Homo sapiens: one gene and its partners. The protein of the gene in region 3 interacts with the protein of the main gene of each other region in a biochemical or structural test. Each region holds a gene or a part of one and is shown on either strand. Other genes may lie near its edges.

Region 1 (7,674 bases), on a different chromosome or scaffold from region 3:
ACCTTAACAGGCAAAATGTTCCCGTGCAAAACACTCCCATTTGAGTAGAGCCACGAGTCCCACCAAGCCAGAAACACAAGATGGAGAAATGGAGAAAAGACAGGTGGGTGTGCAGCGGGGAGTTCCTGCTCTCTGCGAGCCAGCTGGGATCTGGGCACAGCGCTCACTCCAAGATTTCAGAGCACTGGCCCAGAGCAGCCTGGGGTCACAGACCCTGGAGGAGCAGCTCTGAAGCACCTTCTGAGGGCCAGATCCCGGCCTTGGCAGTGAACAGACTAAAGTGCTCCTGGGCTTCCCCACTCTGCGGGGAATAAGCACCCAGGACGTGTCAGATGATGGTAAGTGCCCCGGAAAAAGGAAGCAGGCAGAGAGGCTGGCGCTGGGTGCAGAGGGTTTTCAGTGTTGAATGGGGACGCTGGGCAAGGGCCTGAGGCAGGGAGGAAGCGGCCAGTGTGAATGTGGGGGAGATATGGGGCTTTTTTAGGCAGAGGGAGGAGCAGGCACAGAGAATGTTTTTACAGCTGAGAACTACTCCCAGGGTATGTGGCCATAATGAGCCAAATTCTTCTCCTTTTTTTCAATCAGATCACTGTCACCCAGCACTAAGCCCTCTCACAGTACTGGGTCCCATGTGTCCTTGTGAAAGGGGAAAATGGGCTCTGAAGCAGCGAGCACAGGTACCGGCAGGCAGAACTCCTCGAAGGCCGGCTTCACGAAGGTGGTGTACTGCGTCAGAATCTGCTCCAGGTCCCTCCCTCGGCGCACGTCCCGGAGAACTGCAGCGGCAAGGGGCAGGCGTGCTTCAGACCTCAGGACCTGCCGCCAGCCTCGGCCAGGCAGGCACGGAGGCCCGCGGCCGCCTTACCTCTTCGAGACAGCCTGACGTCGGAGTCGGTGTCCACGAAGAGGCGCAGGTGGAACATGTCCCGGATCTCCTGGCTGTAGAACACCAAGATGCCCTCAAACAGAACCACGTCCGCAGGGTAGACCACCGTGGTCTCTGGTAACCTGAGGGGCGCACGGGGAAAGGGGCTCTGCTGCAGACACAGGGTCTCCAGGCCACACACACAGTCAGCTTCCATTGCAGGGACACTGACTGTGGGAAGGGGTGGGGGACCCACAGAAACCAACCGGGGGAGGCCTGCCGCCAGGCAGGTCTGTGTGAGCCCGAGGGGACGTCCTAGCTGGCCCCTCTCCTCGGCCCTCCCTAGAACCACCTGCTTACCTTGAGTGTGTCACAAAATCATAGGTCGGCACCTCCACCGTTTTGCCCTCCACGATGTTCTTCAGAGTCCTGTGCATCAAATCATTATCAAAGGCATCTGCAGGGTTGGAGACAAAGGCAAGACAGGCAGATGCCCTCGTGCAGCGGACAGCAGGGAACCCTCTCTGCTCTGGGGTCAGCACAGCTGGGTGCTGGGGACACCGAGAACCCTAGCACAGGTAGACTAGGACTACGGCAGTGTATGTTTGGTAGCAACAGTGCCCTCTGCAGCCCTGCAGACCACAGGATGACCCTGTCCTTGCTGTTCTCGGGCTGTGCCACTGCCCAAGCTCTGTGCCCCTGAGATGCCGGAACACAGGGGTTTTCTGATCAGCTCTTCCTGGGAGGTGGGTAGGCTGGGCCTCTGCTTCTCTCTCTTTCTGGGACTAACTGGTTAGACTGCGGCTTTGCAGGCCTTCTTCCCACAAGTCCTTGGGAAAAGGCTGACCATGCCAGCCAGCCAGGGTGGAATCTTCTAGCAGTGGCAGGTGTCTCCCTGCCGCATCTGCCCGTTTACCTGGCCCGGAGCTTCAAGCCACCAGCACTAGTTTACCTACCGCCTCCCACACTGGCCTCTCTGAGGACTTTGCCCCAAAGCACGGGAGGGCACAGTGGGCAGAGGTGTGTGTGGAGGGCCCTAAAGGCCCCAACGTGGGAAGGGAAGATGGGAGGATTTCTCCAGGATCACAGTTGTGGCAGGGCAGGGCAGGGCTCCCCACAGTGCAACAGGCTTCCTGACTGGCTCCAACCACGCTCCTGGGGGGACACTCAGGGCCCAGAGAACTCAGCAAAGTTCCCCTGACTTCACTGTGCAGCCAACTCCACTGCAGGCTGCGTGGCGAGTTGGGGGAACAGCCCAAGCGGGTCTGCATCCATCCAACCTTGGGCCCAAGCGCAGCTGGTTAGCGGCCGCCCAGAATGGGGTCTGCCCTCCCCACATCGTTGGGCTCGCGATTTACCTGGATGGTCAAAATTGTACTGTCCTTTCAAGGCCTTGGCCTTCTGCTCTGCCGTCAGGACCTTGTAGAACCTGTCCTGGCTCAGGATGACCACCTTCCGCTGCCGCTGTTCCACCTCGTTCTGTCCCAGCAACTCCATGATCTTCTCACACACGGTCGACTGGAGACACAGAAGCGGGATTCCCGCCTGGAACCGCTCGTCCTGTGACAGGCACGGGGCCGGCTTCTGGAGACACTGACCCACCCGCCCCCTGGGGGGTATGCTCGGAAGGCGGGAGGACACCAACAGGTGTGGATGGTCTCAGCGGAAGGGCCGCGGGGGCCCAACGGGGTTAGCACGGACTTGGGGCTCCGAGGAGCCCGGCCGGCGGAGAGGCTGTGGGGGAGCCCCGAGGCCCAGCGCCCCAACCCCTCGCCCGCCCCAGCCCGCCCCGGCCCATCGCGGCCTGCAGCCCCTTCGCTCCCGCGCCCTGCCCCTGCCTGGCAGGGGGCCCCTCGGCCGGGGCTGGGGTCTCCTCTCTGGACCGGGCCGCCCGTAGGCACCGGCGAGAGGCGAGACCCCGGCCCGCTCGGCCCCTTACCTTCCCGCTGGCAGTGCCGCCGCTCACCCCTATCAGGAAGGGCCGCTGGTGCGGACGGTCGGCCTCCGGCGCGGGGCTCTCGCAGTCTTCGCCTCCCGCCGAAGCCATCTCGGCCTCCGCTCCCGCGCATCGGGTCCCCGCGCCCGCCCCTTCCCCAGGCCCGGCGCGCCCGCCCAGCGCCGAGGTCGGAGGCAACCGGAGCGATCACTTCCGGGAGGCGCGCGGGGCACGCCGGGAGTTGTAGTCCACCGGGGGGGGGGGGGCCGCGCATGCGTGAGGGTGCAGGGCCCGAGGCCGGCACACCAGGAGCGCCCGCGTCCCATTGCGCCGAAAGCTGGCTGGCAGGGACTGCTGCGCCCGGGCCTCGAGCCGGCTACAAGGTCTCAGACTCAAGTGGCCCGGAAGGTGCCCGTTCCGCACCCCGAGGCTGGGGCTGCGCCTTCGTCCGAGTGCTTGCCTCTGCCTCGCGCTGCCTCTGCGCCAGTCCCGGGCCCTCCCCCGGCCGCCCCCGGGCCTGGCCCCCTCCAGCCCAGGCTCCTCTTGGCCATCGAGGCCTCCGGACTGTCCGGACGCCTCCCACCCCACCCGCTGCTGGAGCCGTCGGGGCGCCCCGGAACGTGGCGGGGGCTGTCGCCTGATGACTTTAGGCTCGCGCCTACAGCGCGCCAAGGAGGCAGAGGCCCATGTGCCGGGTTCCATCCCTGCCGCCCCCCCGCTCCGTGCCTGGCACAGAGAACGTGACAGGCAAATTCTGATCCATTGAAATTATGGATTTCCAGCCGGGCGCGGTGGCTCACGCCTGTAATCCCAACACTTTTGGAGGCTGAGGCGGGTAGATCACGAGGTCAGGAGATCGAGACCATCCTGGCGAACACGGTGAAACCCCGCCTCTACTAAAAATGCAACAAATCAGCTGGGCGTGGTGGCGGGCGCCTGTAATCCCAGCTACTTGGGAGGCTGAGGCAGGAGAATCGCTTGAACCCGGGAGGTGGAGGTTGCAGTGAGCCGAGATGGTGCCACTGCACTCCAGCCTGGGCCACAGAGCAAGACTCCGTCTCAAAAATAAAAAAGAGAGAGAGATAGCTAAGGCTCGGGGCAGAGCATGCTTTTCATATACAAAACAGACAACCCCGGGCGGACGCGGTGGCTCACACCTGTAATCCCAGCACTTTGGGAGGCCGAGGCGGGTGGATCACGAGGTCAGGAGATCGAGACCATCCTGGCTAACATGGTGAAACCCCGTCTCTACTAAAAATACAAAAAATTAGCCGGGCATGGTGGCGGGCGCCTGTGGTCCCAGCTACTCGGGAGGCTGAGGCAGGAGAATGGTGTGAACCCGGGAGGTGGAGCTTGCAGTGAGCCAAGATCACGCTACTGCACTCCGGCCTGGGGGAAAGAGTGAGACTCTGTCTCAAAAAAAAAAAAAAAAAAAAAAAAGACCCCAAGTCTACAGCCCCAGCTACCTCCTTATCTAATTCTCGCCTTTGGAGGCAAGATTCTCCCTGCCCTAAGTCACCCAGGGCCAGGTATCAGGTGACTAGAGACCACTCTGCAGCCCAGAGCCTGCTAGAATTACTCAAACTAGCCAATTTTAAACTCTTTCCCTGCCCTGCCAGGCCTTTTCCATGGAAACCCCAAGAAAGCCTCAGGCCTGGGCTCTCCCCTCGCCCCTGCTTCTGCCTCCTGACCAAACCTGGGGTTCTCTACTGAGAACCGTGCATGGCATGGGTGCCCCTTCTCTCAGGAAATGCGATCAATCTTGCGATGGCTTTGGCCTCTCCTCATGGTCATTCAGCCGTACCTCTGTAAATTAAGCCCCAGGCACAGAACAGTGCCTAGCAAACAGCCACGCTGCTGGCTTAGATCTGTCCAGGTGTGTGTCCCAAAGGTGGCCATCCCCCAAGCCAACTTTGAATTTGTATCAAGGGAGAGTTAGACACGGTTTCTTGCCATTTCTTCCCCTGTGGTCCAGCCACGTAGCGAAAGGCAGGGAAACTAGCAGAGTCTGACCAGGGGCTGTCCCTGATACCCCTGGCCTGGGTCTCGTGTGCCCTCTCTGGTGACTGGCCACAAGGCATGGGCTGCCAGGGCCAGTCAGGCTATTGCGTGGTTCCGCTCCCAAGGCAAAGGGACGCTTTGGGAAGGAGCCACTCCCTGGGAGCAGGCCCAGCACCCAGGAAGCCCACAGTCCAGTAAACAAGGCCCGGGCCCACACGGCTCAGGCCTCTGGGCCACAGTGGCTCCCCTATGGGACCATCCCAACCACCACCAAGCAGAGGGCCAGCCCCAAACCTCTAGCTGGTCCCCAACTCCCCATATTGTGAAGAAGAGTGACTTTTATGGGTTTTTTTTGTTCGTTTTGAGACGGAATCTTGCTCTGTTGCCCAGGCTGGAGTGCAGTGGCATAATCTTGGCTTACCGCAACCTCCGCCTCCCGAGTTCAAGCAATTATCCTGCCTCAGCCTCCCCGAGTAGCTGGGACTACAGGCACCTGCCACCAGGCCCGACTAATTTTTGTATTTTTAGTATAGAGACAGGGTTTTGCCATGTTGCCCAGGCTGGTCTCGAACTCCTATTCACCTGCCTCAGCCTCCCAAAGTGCTGGGATTACAGGTGTGAGCCTCTGTGCCCAGCCGAAGAGTGTCCTTAAAGAAGCATGAGTCAGCCGGGTGCAGTGGTTCACGCCTGTAATCCCAGCACTCTGGGAGGCCGAGGCAGGCGGATCACTTGAGGTCAGGAGTTCGAGACCAGCCTGGCCAACATGGTGAAACTCCATCTCTACTAAAAATACAAAAATTGGCCGGGCACGGTGGCTCACGCCTGTAATCCCGGCACTCTGGGAGGCTGAGGCAGGCGACTCACGAGGTCAGGAGTTCAAGACTAGCCTGGCCAACATAGTGAAACCCCGTCTCTACTAAAAATACAAAAAATTAGCTGAGCACAGTGGCGGGCGCCTGTAATCCCAGCTACTCGGGAGGCTGAGGCAGGAGAATCGCTTGAACCTGGGAGGCGGAGATTGCAGTGAGCCGAGATCACGCCACTGCACTGCAGCCTGGGCAAAAATAAATAAATAAATAAGTAAATAAATAAGCCGAGCATGTTGGCATGCGCCTGTAATCACAGCTACTCAGGAGGCTGAGGCAGGAGAACTTGAACCCAGGAGGCAGAGGTTGCAATGAGCTGAGATCGTGCCACTGCACTTTTTTTTCTGTCTGCAAAAAAAGAAAAAAATAAAAACTAGCTGAGTGTGGTGGCATAGGCCTGTGGTCCCAGCTACTGGGGAGGCTGAGATGGGAGGATTGCTTGAGCTTGGGAGGCAGAGGTTGCATTGAAGAGAAATCGCGCCGCTGCGCTACAGCCTGGGTAACAGAGCGAGACCCTGTCTCCAAAAAAAAAAAAAAAAACAAAAAAACGTTGTTGCTGAATTGGGGGGTGGGGGTAGGTGGAGAGTTGGGTGGAGGCTTGGAGCCCTCGGAGTTTGGGTTTCCCAGAGCCAGGCAAGGCAGTACTCCTAAGAGTGACCACTGTCTACTCTGGATTCATTCTCTTACCTGCTCTCTGGTGCGGGATGTTGAAAATCGGGGAGGCTGTGCATGTGGGGGAGTGGGGAGTATATAGGAAATCTCTGCACCTTCTGCTCAATTTTTCTGTGAATCTAAAACTGCTCCCCCTGCCCCCTCAAACACATGCAGTACAGGAAACACCGCTCTCCATGGCTGCCCTCCTCCCTCCTCCTTCAAGCCACCCTAACCACTACAAAAATGTCAGCTCATGCCAAGCATGTCCTGAAGCTTTTATTGAACACTAGCTGGCTCTCAGCGCTTAAAGAGATAAGCAGGTGCCTGCTGTTTTAAGTATTGATTGCCCTTTTCCCTGTAATCATAAAAGTGACTCCTGCTGATTGCAGAAAATGTATACACACAAACACACAACCAAAACTAGAACCACCCCTTACTCCTCACCCAGGGAAAAGCATGGTTTTGAGTTCTGGGGTGTGCCCTTCTGGTCTGACATGGCTGTTCTAGATAACGGAACGAGAGGCTAAACAAGGTTTGGTGGTGTGGGTTTTTTTTTTGTTTGTTTGTTTTTCGAGACGGAATCTCACTTTGTCTCCCAGGCTGAAGTGCAGTGGCGCGATATTGGCTCACTGCAACCTCCACCTCCCAGGTTCAAGTGATTCGCCTGCCTCAGCCTCCTGAATAGCTGGGATTACAGGCGCCTGCCACCACGCCCGGCTAATATTGTATTTTTAGTAGAGATGGGGTTTCACCATGTTGGCCAGGCTGGTCTCAAACTCCTGACCCTCAGGTGATCCTCCTGCCTCGGCTTCCCAGAGTGCTAGGATTACAGGCCTGAGCCACCGTGCCCGGCCAGTTGCATATCTTAAATAGCATTAAAGCCTCACAGCCACCCTGCGATATGGGTACCATTGTGATACCATTTTCCTGATGGGTAAATTGAGAAACAGAGTGATTATGTGGCTTGCCCAAGGCTTGCAGCTGCAAGAGACCTCCGTCAAGTTGGCTGAGACAGCAGGTGTAGGAAGCCAACGCACATATTCACATATACACACTCGACACACACACAGAACTGCACCATCTCCCTGCTCAAAGACAAGACGGGGAAACATGACAGCCAGGCTCTTGGAATGAAGAAGGTCCCATAGCCAGTGGTTTGAAGCTGAGTTGCCTATAAAGGGTCCAGGACCAGGTATGTCTTAGGGGTGGGAGTCAAAGCCGCAGCTTCACACACAGCAGGAGGTTCTGGAACTGGCCCTCTGCAGACAGCTGGAGCCCAAGATGAGTTGCCCTTTTGTGAAACTAGAGAAACCAGTGCAGCACTCGAACTCTGGGTAAACGGAGTCATATCT
Region 2 (2,857 bases), on a different chromosome or scaffold from region 3:
GTCTTGATATGTTTAGAGGGTATTTGCAATGGGATGTGGCTGGCCCAACTGTCAGCTAACCTTCATGTTTCTTTCATAGCCCCCAGGAAGAAAATTGAAGAGTTCAAAGAATTGAAAAGTTAAGCCAATTCATTTAAAATAATCTTTGACTTTCTCATTATCAATATATGTGTATTTTCTGCAAGGTTACAAAAACAACTGGAACATATGTTAAAATAATCTTCAGTGTCATCTGCAGCAACTAATTCTAGAGAACTATCTTATTCAATTTCATTTCTTACTTATATGGAACTAAACCTTAATCTGCTTTTCAGGTATGAAATATATTCATGATTCTGTCTCAAAATATGAAATCAAAAGTTAGCATTATAACTCCCAGCTAACTGTCATATTAATTCATCTGGATGAACCTTGTGGTACTGAACTTTGACAATGCTCAGGGTGTCAAAGCAAACACCTGCCCCACCCCACGCCTACCCCAAAAACAAACGAGAGGCTTTTATAGGTTGCAAGTCCTGGTCTGGTTTATTTATAAAGCAATAAATATTAGAAGCACAAACAAATTGCACGTGTGTAAACAAACTGTACAATGATTGATGAAAGATGAGGGAAGGTGGTTTGGAAGACTCCAAGAAGCATAATACCGTCATCCTGACTGGAAGGTAGATGGAGAGAGAAGGCATCTTAGAAGCATTTGCGGTGGACAATGGATGGGCCTGCCTCATCGTACTCTTGCTTGCTAATCCACATTTGCTGGAAGGTGGACAGAGAGGCCAGGATGGAGCCCCCAATCCAGACAGAGTATTTACGCTCAGGGGGAGCAATAATCTGCAGAAAGAAAACAAAAACTTCCAGTGAACTCTGAAGTTCCAAGCAAGGGAGCAAATAACACATTGGGAGGATTCACAGAAAAAAACCATTAGATATTAATTCGCTATAATGTGGGATATGTCATACCACGAAATAATGTGGCCAATCAAGTTATATGAACTCACCTCTATTTCATCATTTATATTATTAAAGATATATTCTATTATTAAAATGGAATTTCTCCACTTACCTAGAGTGTAATTTGGCAACAAGCTAAATGTGTAGTGGAGCCTAGCCCAAAAGTTGGGAGCTTTAAAAATGTATTCAAAGATTTTGTTGCGTGTGTGTGTGTCTTTTTTTTGTCAAAGATTTATTTTTATTCACTGCTTAAAAGCATTTTGGAAGTTACCTATCTTGGGAAAAGTGCTAAGAAAATCAGAAAAAGTGGTAGAAAAGCTAACAGGTAAAGTTTGTAGGAGACAAGAAACTGAGTATGAGGGAAAAGGAATTTGGAACGTAGTTCTGCTTAGAATACCAAGACTTGCCTCGGATCTCCCACTCACAAAAGTTCTTTACCTTAATCTTCATGGTGCTAGGAGCCAGAGCAGTGATTTCCTTCTGCATACGATCAGCAATACCAGGGTACATAGTGGTGCCTCCAGATAAGACATTGTTGGCATACAGGTCCTTGCGGATATCAATGTCACACTTCATGATGCTATTGTAAGTTGTTTCATGGATGCCAGCAGATTCCATACCTGGGAACGAGTCACACACACACACACACACACACACACACACACACACACACACACATCACAGTGCATTCAGGTCAAGGTAGAGGGAAGAGAACAGAACTTCTTTGTGTGGGGGAGCTGTCACCATTTGTCTCTGAAACATATGTTCCCCTATAAGACACACTGCAGGGTGGAATGGGTGCCTCACAGTTAATCCACAATACAATGCCAAGAAAGGAGCAACTGTGCTTAGCACCTGTTTCAAGTAAACACCTCCTGAAACTCTCAGATGTATGAAGATGTATTGGAAAAGGAAAAGATACACGTTTAAACTAAAATGAATGTAATTTTTGTTTATGGACTTAAATCAGATCCTGACAAAGTTCCTTATGGAAAGCATTGCTTAGGAAGGATATTTGTTGACATATAAGTGCCCAGTTATTAATATGAGTAGGAATGTTATTGCATTTAATGATGAGGAACTTGGAAAGTCCAGCTACTTGGTAGTGAAACTTACGGGAATAAGTCAGCTCTTGTGAACTAGCCCTTTTCCTGCAGATACGTGCTATTCAGTTACTACTCTGTGTCATCCTTTATTTTGAGATGAACTCAGTGTGTCATCCTTTATTATATCACTAGAGCAGAACATAGACTTCCCCTTTAATGAGCCATCAGGACTTGAGGTTGAGCTGTGTGGGAATCCAAACTATGACTTCTTTTAACTCAAGGGCTTCTTGAGCCTTCTAGATTTTACTCTGGGAGACCCTAAGATTTCCAGGGAAAATCGTGCCTCTGCACCAGACCCTACAACTCACCAATGAAGGAGGGCTGGAAGAGTGTCTCAGGACAGCGGAAGCGCTCATTGCCAATAGTGATGACTTGGCCATCAGGCAGTTCATAGCTCTTCTCCAGGGAGGAGGAAGAGGCAGCTGTGGCCATCTCATTCTCAAAATCCAGGGCGACATAGCACAGCTTCTCTTTAATGTCACGGACAATTTCACGTTCAGCTACAGAAATAAAGAGTATCACAGTCATGCTCTGAAGCAAGAAGTCAATTATAGGGAGGTAGGCGGATTCAGTGAGAGAGGAGGAAAGCAGACCCACACTGTGGCAGATGAGACACACACACTCACCAGTGGTGACAAAGGAGTAGCCACGCTCAGTGAGGATCTTCATGAGGTAGTCAGTGAGGTCCCGACCAGCCAGATCCAGACGCATGATGGCATGGGGCAAAGCGTAGCCCTCATAGATGGGGACATTGTGAGTTACACCATCCCCAGAGTCCAGAACAATGCCTGCCCGGGGAAGTA
Region 3 (7,037 bases):
GGTACTTATAAAAGCAGGTGTAAGGGTATTTGAAAAATGTAAACACATATAAAATCAGCAGACCTGGCATGAATACTGAGGTATTAAGGGAACTAGCTAATGTACTTACTGAGCCACTTACAATTATTTCTGAAAAATCTCAGAGAACTGAGGATAGATCAGAAAATTTAAAGAAAGCAAATACCAAATTTTCAAACCAGGATAGGAAGTGAATACCTTGTAAATACACTTTGTTAAGTGATGATAATTCTGAGTAAAAATTTAGAAGATTTTGAGAAAAGCATTTGAACTTCTAGGGGCCAATAAAATACCATGCAGAAGAATGTTTAAAAAGTCATGCCAAATTTGAATCCATTTGATCCTCAACCTCATCAGATGTTATATGCCAAACTACTTATTTTGGCTTAGATAATAATCATATAGAATGAAACTTTCCACAAATAGACTGTGTCAGTGGCTGGCTACTTCTAACAAGGTGCCACCAAGAGAGTTTTGAGATCAATTCTAAATTAAAATATTTGCTAACGATCTAGAAAAATAAGTCAACAGCATCCTGGCAAATCTGCAGTTAGTTATAAATTGAGAACTGTTGTTAGTAATAGGCAAAACAGAAAAACAATACCAATATAGATTTGCAGCAATTAAAAATGTAGACTCCAAAGTAAAACTTAGAAAAATATTAAAGTATTAAAGTGAAAGAATTTAAAAAACAATTCAATGGAAAGGACAGAGTAATAACTGAAGATGATATAAGAAAACGAGAGAACAGATTCTTATTTCTTAATCCAGCATTGCCCGAAACATATACAAGAGTTAAAAATAAATACATAAATAAAGTCTTTATATTATGAGTCATTCTGATTAGACCACGCACAAAATGGTGCTTAAAGTATTGGTCGTACTATAAAGATGTAAACAGAGCAGAAGGAATTGCCAACAGAGACAGAAATGAGGGGTTATTTCATAAGAAAAATTGAATTGGTAAAATATGAATGGCCACAGCTAAAAAGACCAAGGTAGAATATAAACATTCACATAGGAAAATATGAACACGAGACACACGGGAAGACATGGGAATGTATGCTGAAATGGCTACATATGATGTGCAGGGAACCATCAAATGGTATACAGCAGGGAACAGCAATGAGATGAACTGAACAAGCTATTTTTATCATCTGTAGTTCTAATGTGTAATTCTGTGAAACTACTGGGTTTTCAGTTATTAAACAAACACCTAGCTTACAAAATAATTCTTTTTTTTTTTTTTTCTTTTTTTGAGACAGAGCCTGTCACATTGTTGCCCAGACTGGAGTGCAGTGGGCACTCCACTCAGCTCACTGCAACCTCCGCCTCCTGGGTTCAGGTGATTCTCTGCCTCAGCCTCCTGAGTAGCAGAGATTACAGGCACCTGCCACCACACGTGGCTAATTTTTGTATTTTTAGTAGAGACACGGTTTCACGTAGATGGCCAGGCTGGTCTCAAACTCCTGACCTCAGGTGATCCACTGGCCTCAGTCTCACAAAGTGCTGGGATTACAGGCATGAATCACAGCACCCCAGGCCTACAGAGAAATCCTTCTACCTGGTCTGATTTTTTTGGACTATAATTAGAGCTTTCTACTATAATTAGAGCTAATAAAACTCAGAGGGGACAAAAACCAGTTGTCTTCTGTTCCAGAAGAGTGACATCATGCAGTTTATAAAAATTAAACGGACCAAAGAATCCCCACCCTTAACATATAAAATCAATAGAGGTTGAATTACATACACTACAATGCATTCTTAGGCACATTTTCTCTTGAAGGAAAACTAAAACAATAAATCACGGAAATTCAAATGAGCAAAATACTAACAGCTTCACTTATAAGCCTTTTGCATGAGGTAATAACAAGCATGAGAAACAGATCCTACTTTGGGAAGGTTCATGGGTGTCCTCAGCCGGGTCCGGACACTCTTCATTAATATACGCTGCTCTGTTGGCAGCAAATGGTACTTCATTGCTTCAATGAGGTAATCTTTGCAAGCACTGCTATTCTTGACCAATGCTTCCTCTTCAACCCTCTGTAACAAGAAATCAGACACACCCACTGAGGGTAGGGCTATTTCATAATTAAATTGCCAAAGAAAAAGAAGTAAAGGAGAGGAAAAAAGCAGTAACTATATCCTTTAGTTTAGTCTAAAAATAAACGAGGAAAGTTTATAAATACATCTAAGAGAAAAATAAATATAACCAAAAAATGCTCAAGTATCTGGCCTGCAGAGAAAAACATATATAGGTAATAAAAAGAAGAACCACAGTGAAAAATGATAAACTTCAATGTTAGCTATGGAATATGATGAACTCTTCGGATATTATATCCACCTGTGTATCTTTAACCTTTAAGACAAAAAGTAAGCAAAACAAGAAACAAAGTTTAGATAATACATCCTTCAGGTGAAGACAATACTAATAAGTTAATGATACCTTTTTCAAACACAAGTGGGCAAGTAAAATATCCCAAAAAGAGATTAGAAATACCTTAAAGCAACGTACCCATAACACAAATAAATCTTGTACTGCCTAGCCTGACCTCAAACGCAGGACAGGCTTCTGGGTTCGTTTTCTTTTTTCTGGGGGGGGAGGGGGGGCGGGGGGAAGGGAACAGAGTCTCACTCTGTTGCCCGGGCTGGAGTTCAGTGGTACAATCCTGGCAAACTCCACCTGCCGGGTTCCAGCAATTCTCCTCCCTCACCTTCTTGAGTAGCTGGGACTACAGGCACCTGCCACCATGTCTGGCTAATTTTTTGTATTTTTAGTAGAGACGGGGATTCACCACGTTAGCCAGGCTGGTCTCGAACTCCTGGCCTCATGCCTGCCTCCGCCTCCCTAAGTGCTGGGATTATAGACGTGAGCCACTGACCGCACCCACCCTTTTGGATCATCTTCTTAATACCAGAAGACCCATGATTACACAGATCACAAAAAGTAATGAGATTTCAAGAAATCCTAAAATGTTCAAATCTAATTTCTTAATAAATGATTCTTTCAATGGTTTCAATTATTAAAATAATGCTGAAATGTTCCTAGCGGGATTCTAATAAAAAAAACAGTAAATTTAAAATTATTTGGAGACCACTAAAGAATCATTTTTCACATTTATTTCAAATAATGTTTTCCCTCAGCTTAGAAATAAAGACAGAAATCAAATGCATGCCACTATTAAATTACGAAGTAAAATTAAACGGTATTTGGGTCAGACCTCAAAATTCCAGGTCTGCAGGGGAATCAGAAGAGACTATGGAAAGAAAAAAACAGTAAAGAAGATGCAAAGCAGTGACTGCCACAGGGACATTTATTTACATGTATTTAAGTGACCACAAATACTACCTTGATAAGCTCTAGTACTTGCTTACCCAAATCAAAAATAGGGGCAAAAGCAAATTTCTAAGAACGGGGAATGGTGGCTGGGTGTGGTGCCTCACAAGGCCTGTAATCCCAGTAGTTTGGGAGGCCGAGGCGGGTAGATCACTTGAGGTCAGGAGTTCGAGACCAGCCTGGCCAACAGGGCAAAACCCCAACTCTACTGAAAATACAAAAATTAGCTGGGGTTGTAGCATGCACCTGTAGTCCCAGCTACTCAGTAGGCAGAGGTACAAGAATCACTTGAGCCCGGGAGGTGGAGGTTGCGGAGAGCCGAGATGACGCCACTGCACTCCAGCCTGCGGGGTCCTTTACTGTCTTCTGTCCTGTACTCCACAGATCTGCATTCTACAGCTCTTATCACTGCTTGATAGGGATCTACATGCTGTCAGGCCAGTGACACAGTGCTGTGTGGATTCATATGTTTTGCATATGCATTTACCTGAACTAAATATTCCCGAGGAAGCAAAGGTAACCGTACATGTTCCATCAGTCGGGCCATAAACTCTTGCCTCACATCCTTGTCATGGTTCACCCATGCTATTACTGCTTCAAATACCTTGCAGAAAATATAGGAGAAGAAAAAATAAGAAATGAGTTGTGTATCAAGGCATCTGGATAAAATATGAGACTACATTTTATATATAACTCTTGCTAAGACATCCAAGTTTAATTCACAGCTCAAGTGTTTTCAAAATCCTGACTTGCAATGTACTTACAAAGCCATTCACCCCATTTCTTTTCTGTTCTTTTTTTTTTTATTTACCCAAAATAATAAAGCAAAGTGATATTCTGGAATGAAAATCATGTATCCTTATAAACAATTCATGTTTGGCTTTTTCTTCAGGTTTACAAACAAATGTTAGACCATACACATAAATCGAAGGTTTGTACAATAGATCGACTCAGCTCTGTAATAGCAGAATATATTAAAATGTAGTATTTTGAAATTTTTTTTTACAAATTAAAAAATAAGGGCATTATTTTTTACAATACATAATTGTGAGAAAGCTAATAAGCTAATATGAAGACACTGTTTGTCTACATAATTTTCTTCTCAACTGATGAATATATCACTTAATAATCTTTAAAGGTTTGCAGGAAATGTTTGACAATATGCAATTGGATAACTGAGACCAAAAATAGGTTATTTTGATCCAGGAATAAAGCAAGAAACTAATTCTCTCATACTTTGTGGATCAGCTTACATTTTGGCAACCTTTTATTGATTTCTGCAAATAAATAACAAGAATGAACAGAATGGAGGTAGTAAAACATTTTGCAAAGTTTGAAAAAAAAAAGCAAGAAACTAAAAATAATGCACATTAAAATTAACACCCCTCTTTAATTCATTCTGTCAACAAGTATTTATCAAGTGTCTCTACGTGCCAGGTGCCAGAGATTAGGTGAACAAGATAGTCGGCCTTCTGGCAATTCTATCTAATATTTCTCAGTTCTGTCTTCTCTCCCCCCTGCTTCTATCATCCCATATCGGAACCTGCTGCTCACTGGTATGACTTCAACATCCTCTCATCTGGCCCTCACCTCATTTTTGGTCCATACTGCCCACCACCACCAGATAGCTAGTCTCCAAAGATAGCCTCCTAATAAACCACATCTCCCAGATCCATACCCTTATATAGTAACCCTCCACACTGAATCTAAGCTGGCCCTGTTAACCAGTAGAGTGCGGAGGAAGGGACACTGTGCAATTTCTGAAGGTAGGTCTTAAGCAGCCTCACTACTTCTACTCTGCTCTCTTGAAATGCTCATTTGAAGGAAGCCAAATGTCATGTAAGAAGTCTGGCTACTTGAAACCACCACACCATGAGAAACCCATGCAAGTTACAGAGAAGAAAGGAGGGGAGAGGAGGGAGACCTAGAGAGAGACCAATCAACCGGGAGCCCCGGAGCCAGACAAAAGTAGGTGGAGGAGCCACCTTGGACATTACAGACCCATAAGATGCCATGTGCAGAAGAACTGAAGCTCCAGATCTATGGCTCCAGTAGAACCATGCCAGGTATCTCCAGGCATCTGGGTCACCTTAGCCGAGGTCTCAGACACTGTGGAGCAGAGACAAGCTGTCCCTATTGTTCTGCATGAATTCTGACCATAGAATTGTTAGCATAAAATGGTTATTGTTTATGCTTTTACATTTGGCAATGACTTGAGTAGCAGCAGAAAACCAGAACAGCCCTCATGATATTTCTATAATGCAGGTTTTGGCATGGTTTTCTCCTCTGGCTTAAAACCCTTTTAAGGCTCATCACTACAATACAGTTAATTTTCTTTAACATAGCTGAGAAGATATTTTATTATATCATCTTCTAATTTTATCTTCCACCAATGTCTCATATTCTAAACTCCCATCATACTGAACACATTGAATACAATTACTCTTTCATATCTCTTTACATTTGTATATTCTGCTTCTTCTACCTGGAATGCCCTCTGCATTCCCACCCATCCCTATTTCTCTGGCAAACTCAGACTCATTTTTAAAAGACTTGAAATATACATCTGAACCAAGTTGAACTACCATCCCCATACCTATCCCATTCCTGGAAAAGTTAAATGCTCCTAAGGCACCCTTTACAGCATTCTGTAATCAATTATTTACTCTACTGGCTGTCCCACTAGTCTATGAGTAACAAATTCTATTCTGCTAATCTTCTCTTCTCTAGGAGCCCATGGCAGTGTCTGGTACATGGAAGGCACTCAATACATGTCTATTAAGTGTGAAAGTAATGTCATCTTCCTCTGTATTTCTAGGATGCTAAGATTATATATGTCACAAATGCTTTCACATTTTTTAATACTGTAAATATTAGAGTAAATGTGTCTTTAACCCCAGGTGAAATGAATAGCCTTGAGAAAGAGAATCAGAATTTACACAACTTGAAATGCTAAGCACACAAAGGAGAAACTCAAGTTTCATTTCCTCTAAGCACAGCTTTTGTGCTCTGATTCCCGTGTGCTACAAAACCCACCCAAGGAAAAACAGCCCACTAAAAGGAGCTTCTCTCTCCAACTATACGAAAAGTGCAGGTGGCTGACAAAGGTAATTCAAAACGTGGAGAGACAAAAGACTACAACCAGAAGCAGTAGCTGCACAGAGAGGGAGGGAGGCAGGGAGGGAGAGAGTCAGGGAGGCAGGCAGGCTGAACGGACTGGCAGGGGTGAGGTATTATGTCACAGGAAATCAATCTAAAGGAAGGTGACAATCAAGAATGTTCAGTCTAGAACTACCAAAACTTCGCCATCCTAGGTAACCTCTTTCAACTCAGAAGACAAGGAAACTAATTTAGTGACAAATATTATGTTCACATCATAATTCCTACAGGCATTGAGTTGTAGGAAGAAACTAGTTTCCAAAAAAGCATTTGTTTCAGATAGTCTAATGTGTGCAAGCTCTTGCTGTGGAGGTCAAGTACAAAACTGTAGTGGCTAAAAATTTAGGGAACCTCCCACAAAGTGAAGACCGGGAGTAATTTACATAGACAATCAACAAGTCCTGAGTTTCTTTTTTTTCTCCTGGAATCCTTTCCTGAAGTAACTAGCTGAGTTTCTTAACTTCCAGTTGAAACATCACTGGCTGTCACTACACATACAGGATCACAAAGCTATAAAAAAAAG
Region 4 (7,037 bases), on a different chromosome or scaffold from region 3:
CAACTCTTCAGTTACTCTCTACTTTCTACACATAAGAACAGTCCGCCCTCCACATCCTCAGGTTCCATATCCACATGTTCTGCATCCATGGATTCAACTAACTGCAGATGAAAATATTGGGGGAAAAAACAATAACAAAACACAATAATAAAAAACAACATGAATTTTAAAACACTACAGTATAAAAACTATTTACATAGCACTTACATTGTATTAGGTATTATAAGTAATTTAGTGATGACTTAAACTATACGTGAGGAGCCACACCTGTAATCCCAGCGTTTTGGGAGGCAGAGGCAGATGGATCACTTGAGGTCAGGAGTTCGAGACCAGCCTGGCCAACGTGATGAAACCCCATCTCTACTAAAAATACAAAAATTAGTTGGGCATGGTAGCATGTGCCTGTAATCCCAGCTACTCGGGAGGCTGAGGCATGACAATCGCTTGAACCCAGGAGGCAGAGGTAGCAGTGAGCTGAGATTGTGCCACTGTACTCCAGCCTGGGCAACAGAGCAAGACTCAGCCTCAAAAAAAAAAAAAAATTAAATTAAAAAATAAACTATACAGGAGGATGTACTACTGTAGGTTATATGAAAATACACCATTTTATTTAAGAGACTTGTGCATTTGTGAATTTTGGTACCCTGGGGTGGGGGCTGTCTGGAACCAATCTCCTGTGTATACTGACGGATGACTGTGTGTGAGAGGGGCAATATGGAGAGTTCAAAGAACATTTTAATATGACAATGATATCTAGTAACTCTTTAGCATGTTAAAGAGATAAATCTGTTGCATTTCCCGATTTACCTTAATCCACAATAATCTACCAGTCCATGGAAGGAGATGATCCACATAAAGATAGATATATCAGGTTATGTAGCTCAAAACTCTTAGCCATGAAAATGATCTTATCCCAAGAAATCTGTTAATCTCTATCTAGTAACAGAGAATGTGCACATTAATCATTTGATTCACTAATTAATTTCATCTCTCACTGTTTGGTTTATACATTAGTGTGTGTTTGGTTAACTAGACCATCTACCACGTATCTACTGACAAAAATAATATTGTCTCTGAGAAGCTGAACCTCAGCTGCACAAAAGGTATCTGCAGGAATGACTGTGGTTTTTCTTAACTAACCTGAGTATGATGATTACAACAAGCAAATTTCCAAACACTCTTAAATTCAAACTGTTAAAATTCTTAAGAATTCTTACATTCCTGAGAAAATTATTTGCTTGTTATGACTAACAGCTTATCTGAGGACTCTTCTAAAAAATCATTCCAACATATTCATTTAGCATAATGTATTTAATATGGTAATTTGGCAAAGCCAAGATTCAAGTCACAACACTAAAAAGTAAATTATTTATGAAACCCCACCTGAAAAATCTAAATTAATGTAAGTGAAGGTGGAGATATTATATGATCAATTAAGTTGGCCACAAAACCACAGCTTACTGATGCTTTTCCTCTTATGTAAAAATCACAAATAACCAATCTTTTAAAAACTACATATAGACCAGGAACGGCGGCTCATGCCTGTAATCCCAGCACTTTAAGAGGCCAAGGCAGGTGGATCACCTGAGGTCAGGAGTTTGAGACCAGCCTGTCCAACACGGTGAAACTCTGTCTCTATTAAAAATACAAAAAAAAAAAAAAAATTAGCCGGGTGTGGTTGTGGGTGCCTGTAATCCCAGCTACTCTGGAGGCTGAGGCAGGAGAATCGCTTGAACACAGGAGGTGGAGGTTTCAGTGAGCCAAGATCCCAAGATCACGCCACTGCACTCCAGCCTGGGCGACAGAGCAAGACCCCATCAAAAACAACAACAATAAAAAAAAAACTACATATAAAATTAAGCCTGCTACCTGTCAAAGGCATAATCATCTTCCAAATAAAATATTAAGAGCTTCTGACAATGTTTCTTCAAACTGAAAAGCTCCCCTGTTAAGATTTGAGAAATTAAGTTGACAAAGCAAAAAGCTCCTAAAATCCAACTAAGTTTAATATATTCCATTTGTAATAGGTGACAATTTATAGCCTTCTAAATGAATATTTAAGTATTCTGTTATATTTTATATAACACTTAACATTTTTCAAAGTACATTCACATAGTATTTCAGTGGATCTTCAACAATCCTAAATCAGTAAGACATATTGCTAATAAATGAGCATTATAGATTAAGTTCCTTACTCAAAGCTCAGAAAATTGGGTAATCTAGAACTCAAGGGTTCTGCCTTGGTGCTCCTTTTCATTGTATAGTATTCTATTACACCATAGTGAACTTTCCAAAGACTAATGGATTAGACAAAATATATAAACAATTTCAATATGATAAATAAATACTATAAGAATTATATATGAGATCCACCAAAAGAAAATATGCTTTCTAGATACATGCAAAGATGAGACAAGGATCTTAGCAGATTCTGAAAATAAGCAGTTCAGAAAGATTGGCATTTGGGTGATGGGTCACAAAATTAAAATGTTAGGCAAAGGCCAGGTAGAGCTAAGGAATTTAAAAGCACCAGTAACATAAAGATCAATACCTGCTTTCCTCCTCCTCCAAGAACAGTAGTTAAGTTTTGCTATATGATTTTTCAAGCATAAATATAAACAAACAAAATCTTCACAGATTCCCTCAAAAGGACAACCTAAAAAAGATGCTGCATCATCACAGTTAATATTTATGTGGCAGGCCCTATCCTACATGTTTTATATATGTTCATTCATTTAATCAGCACAACTCTATAAAATGGGTACTCTTTTTTACACCCATTTTACAGACAGGAAACTGTAGCACAAAACTTGCTCAAGGTGACACAATTATGTAGCTGAGCCTTGATTTGAGCCCAGGCAATCTAGTTCTTAACTACTATGTTACAAGGCAGAAAAATGGCCTCTTCAAACATAAACTGAGGTCATGCTAAGTCTCACCTATTCCTGCAGACCAGGTTTTAAAACAAAACAAAACGGCTGAGCATGGTGGCTCAAGCCTGTAATCCCAGGACTTTGGGAGGCCAAGGCGGGCAGATCACGAGGTCAGGTGTTCAAGACCAGCCTGGCCAACATGGTGAAACCCCATCTCTACTAAAAATACAAAAATTAGCCGGGCGTGGTGGCGCTCGCCTGTAATCCCAGCTACTCAGGGGGCTGAGGCAGGAGCATTGCTGGAACCCGGGAGGTGGAGGTTGCAGTGAGCCGAGATCGCGCCACTGTACTCCAGCCTGGGCGACAGAGTGAGACTCTGTCTCAAAAACAAAAAAACAAAAAACTCAAACAAAATGCAAGTTACTAAATATATAATTTAAATTATCAATATAATTTAAAGAACTGGTATAGCAAAGGTGTACTAACGGTAATTATGAATTATTTCATAGTATGCTAAATATTTTCAGAAATGATAATTGAGTACAGCTACTCTTGCTGCTTTTACAGCTTTATCTAAAAAAATGTAAAAACTACCAGAAAACCCAAATAACAGGTTTAGGATGATTTCTGAAAATGAGAGCCCAGTTTTAGTTGAATGTTTCCATAGGGATGAACTAAGATGAATTTTATTTATATTTATATACATATATTTTTTATTTTTTGAAATTCTTTGATAAGCTGCTGGTGGAATAAGATAAATTTTAAATGACTAGGCTCTTGCATCAGAATTTGAATGTCAAGAAATGAATTGTCACAAAGCAACAATAGATTCCTGGTTTGTTTTACACAAAAACAACCTCTTTCCAGGTTTTTAGATTACTTCTCAGACTGTGTTACTACGGGTCAGAAAAAAGGTAAGAGAAAAAAATTTGCCAATACTCCTAATCGGTGACTTTGAGGATTTAAGAACAAACTCCAAAAACTATTCCCTGAGACGGAAAGTTACGCTGATTCTCATCCTAAAAAATAAGGAATGTGGCACAAATTTAAAAGATAAGAGGGAAAAAATCACCAACATTCAAATAGAGAGATTCAGTTCAATTAGATATTTTAAGAACTATAGCAGACCATCCTGGCTAACAAGGTGAAACCCCGTCTCTACTAAAAATACAAAAAATTAGCCGGGCACGGTGGCGGGCGCCTGTAGTCCCAGCTACTCGGGAGGCTGAGGCAGGAGAATGGCGTGAACCCAGGAAGTGGAGCTTGCAGTGAGCCGAGATTGCGCCACTGCAGTCCGCAGTCCGGCCTGGGCGACAGAGCGAGACTCCGTCTCAAAAAAAAAAAAAAAAAAAAAAAAAGAACTATAGCAAAGAAATAAATGATGGTTTCTTAATCACAGAACCACATCCCATTTCTGTAACACTGCTATACTATTCACAAAATATTAATGTCATGTACTCATGACACACAGTCTTAATAAAAGACAGAGAAAAATAAGCAGTTAAGTATATTGGAGCTTCAACAAAAATATGATTTAACCTCTCTTTTCAGGTAGATGTGGAAACAATCTCATCAACATATAACGCATCATGTGAACTCTTCAGAGGCAACTTGGGAAGGTGCTTAAAATAAATCATTCTTAAATCTGTGCATCAATGTTTTCTTTTTCTTTCTTTCTTTTTTTTTTTTTTTTTTTAGAGACAGAGTCTCACCCTGTCACCCAGGCTGGAGTGCAGTGGTGCGATCTCGACTCACTGCAACCTCTGCCTCCCGGGTTCAAACAATTCTCCTGCCTCAGCCTCTCGAGTAGCTGGGATTACAGGCGTGCGGACCACGCCCAGCTAATTTTTGTATTTTTAGTAGAGATGGGGTTTCGCCATGTTGGCCAGGCTGTTCTCGAACTCCTGACCGCGTGATCCACCCGCCTCGGCCTCCCAAAGTGCTGGGATTACAGGCGTGAGCCACCGCACCCGGCTCCATCAATGTTTTCTTAAAGGAAATTATGCTATCTTTTTTGAAAAACCAGATCCCTTTCTAGAAAAGCAATGTAAACTCTGCAGATAGAGCCCAACAGTAATATTTTCTGACCAAGACAACCAAATATTAAAATTAAGGTGCACTACTTGTCTAATAAAACCAGTTAAAGAAATCTGCATCTTAAACATCTCGGTAATTACTGAAGGTCCTGTGGTATCAAAATATTACCTAGGCATTATTTACTAAGAATTGATGCTTGTAATTAGCTGGGTGTGGTGGGGTGCGCCTGTACTCCCAGCTACTTGGGAGGCTGAGGCAGGAGAATCGCTTGAACCCAGGAGGCGGAGGTTGCAGTGAGCTCAGATTGCGCCACTGCACTCTAGCCTGGAGATAGAGCAAGACTCCGTCTCTTTTTTTTTTTAAAAAAAAAAAAAAAAAAAAAAAAGAATTGATGCTTGTTTTACTAAAGAGCAATGCATAGCATGACTCTAAAAAAATTAGCATGACAGAAAATAGCTTGATTTGTATACCATATTGACCCATCCACAAAAGCCTATTTATATCTCAATTTGAAGTGATAAAAATCAACACCCAAAACAGAAGCCTGAAATTTGCCATGGGTATAAGGACCGGGTTTCTCCAGAAATCCAACAGCCACTTCCACACCAACACAATATTGCTTCATTTGAAATGACTTATTAGCCATCTACTGGACTACAAATGCTTTGTCATCTCCCAAATTATTAGATCCTAACTAGCTTTTGTTCTTCATCTACCTAATCAAGTTATTTACCTGCTCTATGATTTCAGGTTCCTTATTTGTCAAATAAATAGCTGGGCAGAATAACCTAAGATTTCTCCCAGTTTCAATACACTAAGATTTTTAACTCAACAACTTAACTCAATATTCTCCTGTCTTGCTTCAGAAATATATGTATATTAAAAGGATAGATTTAGCGAAAAAGTTTCTATCTTTCCAGTGCTTTAGTAATCCCTTGGCTTGTCCTTTAATTTGGCTCCAAAGATAAAAGTTCAAACACTGACCCACTGAATATTTTATTAGGCATGTAGTGCAAGTGTCCTGGTCAAAAAACCAAAAATACTGCCTAACTACTGCTATAAAGGATTTTTCAGGTAAGATAATCTTTTCAAAATCAAAACAAAAAATTACAGAAGCACAGACAAATAACATGGAAGTTTCTAAACCAGGTACCACTTAATAAGCTAGGATTCATCTAGTTCTGCAGCCAAATCCTGAAATGACTCAAAAATAATATGCGATGTAAGATTTTCTTTAGTTTGGTAATGCCCATGCCTAGATAGAGAATTAAAAATCCAAAAAGTTACGAGTTCTAAGAAAACCTGAGAAGCTTGGACAAAGTTTTTATCGTGACATTAGACAAATTAAGTTTTTTTCACTGTATTATCAGTTCCAAGATAATAAAGTATCAGAAAATTCCAGGTGATAAAAGGAAAACACACATCACATGCTAAGAAGTCTCAGAAGTGAAATAATTAAAACTAACAAAATTAATTCATAAAGTGCTCAACAAGTAATTGGGTCCAGTCTTAAAAAAGTAAGGTAACCGGTTAAGGAAAACAAAATTGTTAAAAAGCACCTATTCAAATATAAAACTATAATGGAAGAATAAAATTCCAGCATCAGTATCAATAAGCATCGATAGTACAAGAAAGAAATGTGTCTACCTGTAAATTTCTGCCTGTAAACCAAAAGGAATCGGACATAAGTTTTTTTGTTGTTGTTGTTTTTGTTTGTTTTTGAGACGGAGTCTCGCTCTGTCACCACGCTGCAGTGCGATGGTGCGATCTCCGCTCACTGCAACCTCCACCTGCTGGGTTCAAGATATTCTCCTGCCTCAGCCTCCCGAGTAGTTGGAATTACAGGCGCGCGCCACCATACCCGGCTAATTTTTGTATTTTTAGTAGAGTCGGGGTTTCCCCATGTTGGTCAGGCTGGTCTCGAACTCCTAACCCCGTGATCCACCCGCCTTGGCCTCCCAAAGTGCTGGGATTACAGGCGTGAGCCACCGTGCCTGGCCCAGACTAAGTTTTTTGAATATGACTGACCAAAATGAACAGTTTTCGTTTGACGAGGTTTTTTTTTTTTAAAGATCTGTCACCTTTTCAATTCTAAAATACTATAAAATTAATGAGTAGTTTTAATTT

The links.
Region 1: the proteins of KLHL2 (region 3) and UCK1 form a complex in vitro, tested with the Homo sapiens proteins (one study listed by BioGRID).
Region 2: the proteins of KLHL2 (region 3) and ACTC1 interact in far-western blotting, tested with the Homo sapiens proteins (one study listed by BioGRID).
Region 4: the proteins of KLHL2 (region 3) and WNK1 interact in a test that uses a peptide from one of them, tested with the Homo sapiens proteins (one study listed by BioGRID).

The regions. Positions count from the first base shown.
Region 1 is NC_000009.12:131,528,263-131,535,936, forward strand, and holds the start of UCK1 (uridine-cytidine kinase 1), read right to left. Parts: upstream 3,002-7,674; 5' UTR 2,913-3,001; coding exon 2,805-2,912; intron 2,426-2,804; coding exon of another isoform or gene 2,384-2,425; coding exon 2,224-2,383; intron 1,323-2,223; coding exon 1,226-1,322; intron 1,009-1,225; coding exon 866-1,008; intron 777-865; coding exon 682-776; intron 1-681. UniProt on the Homo sapiens protein: Phosphorylates uridine and cytidine to uridine monophosphate and cytidine monophosphate. Does not phosphorylate deoxyribonucleosides or purine ribonucleosides. Can use ATP or GTP as a phosphate donor.
Region 2 is NC_000015.10:34,789,728-34,792,584, forward strand, and holds the end of ACTC1 (actin, alpha cardiac muscle 1), read right to left. Parts: intron 2,843-2,857; coding exon 2,681-2,842; intron 2,555-2,680; coding exon 2,363-2,554; intron 1,569-2,362; coding exon 1,387-1,568; intron 829-1,386; coding exon 685-828; 3' UTR 503-684; downstream 1-502. UniProt on the Homo sapiens protein: Actins are highly conserved proteins that are involved in various types of cell motility and are ubiquitously expressed in all eukaryotic cells.
Region 3 is NC_000004.12:165,294,531-165,301,567, reverse strand, and holds part of KLHL2 (kelch-like protein 2), read right to left. Parts: intron 3,960-7,037; coding exon 3,843-3,959; intron 2,062-3,842; coding exon 1,912-2,061; intron 1-1,911. UniProt on the Homo sapiens protein: Substrate-specific adapter of a BCR (BTB-CUL3-RBX1) E3 ubiquitin ligase complex that mediates the ubiquitination of target proteins, such as NPTXR, WNK1, WNK3 and WNK4, leading most often to their proteasomal degradation.
Region 4 is NC_000012.12:755,568-762,604, reverse strand, and holds part of WNK1 (serine/threonine-protein kinase WNK1), read right to left. Parts: intron 1-7,037. UniProt on the Homo sapiens protein: Serine/threonine-protein kinase component of the WNK1-SPAK/OSR1 kinase cascade, which acts as a key regulator of blood pressure and regulatory volume increase by promoting ion influx.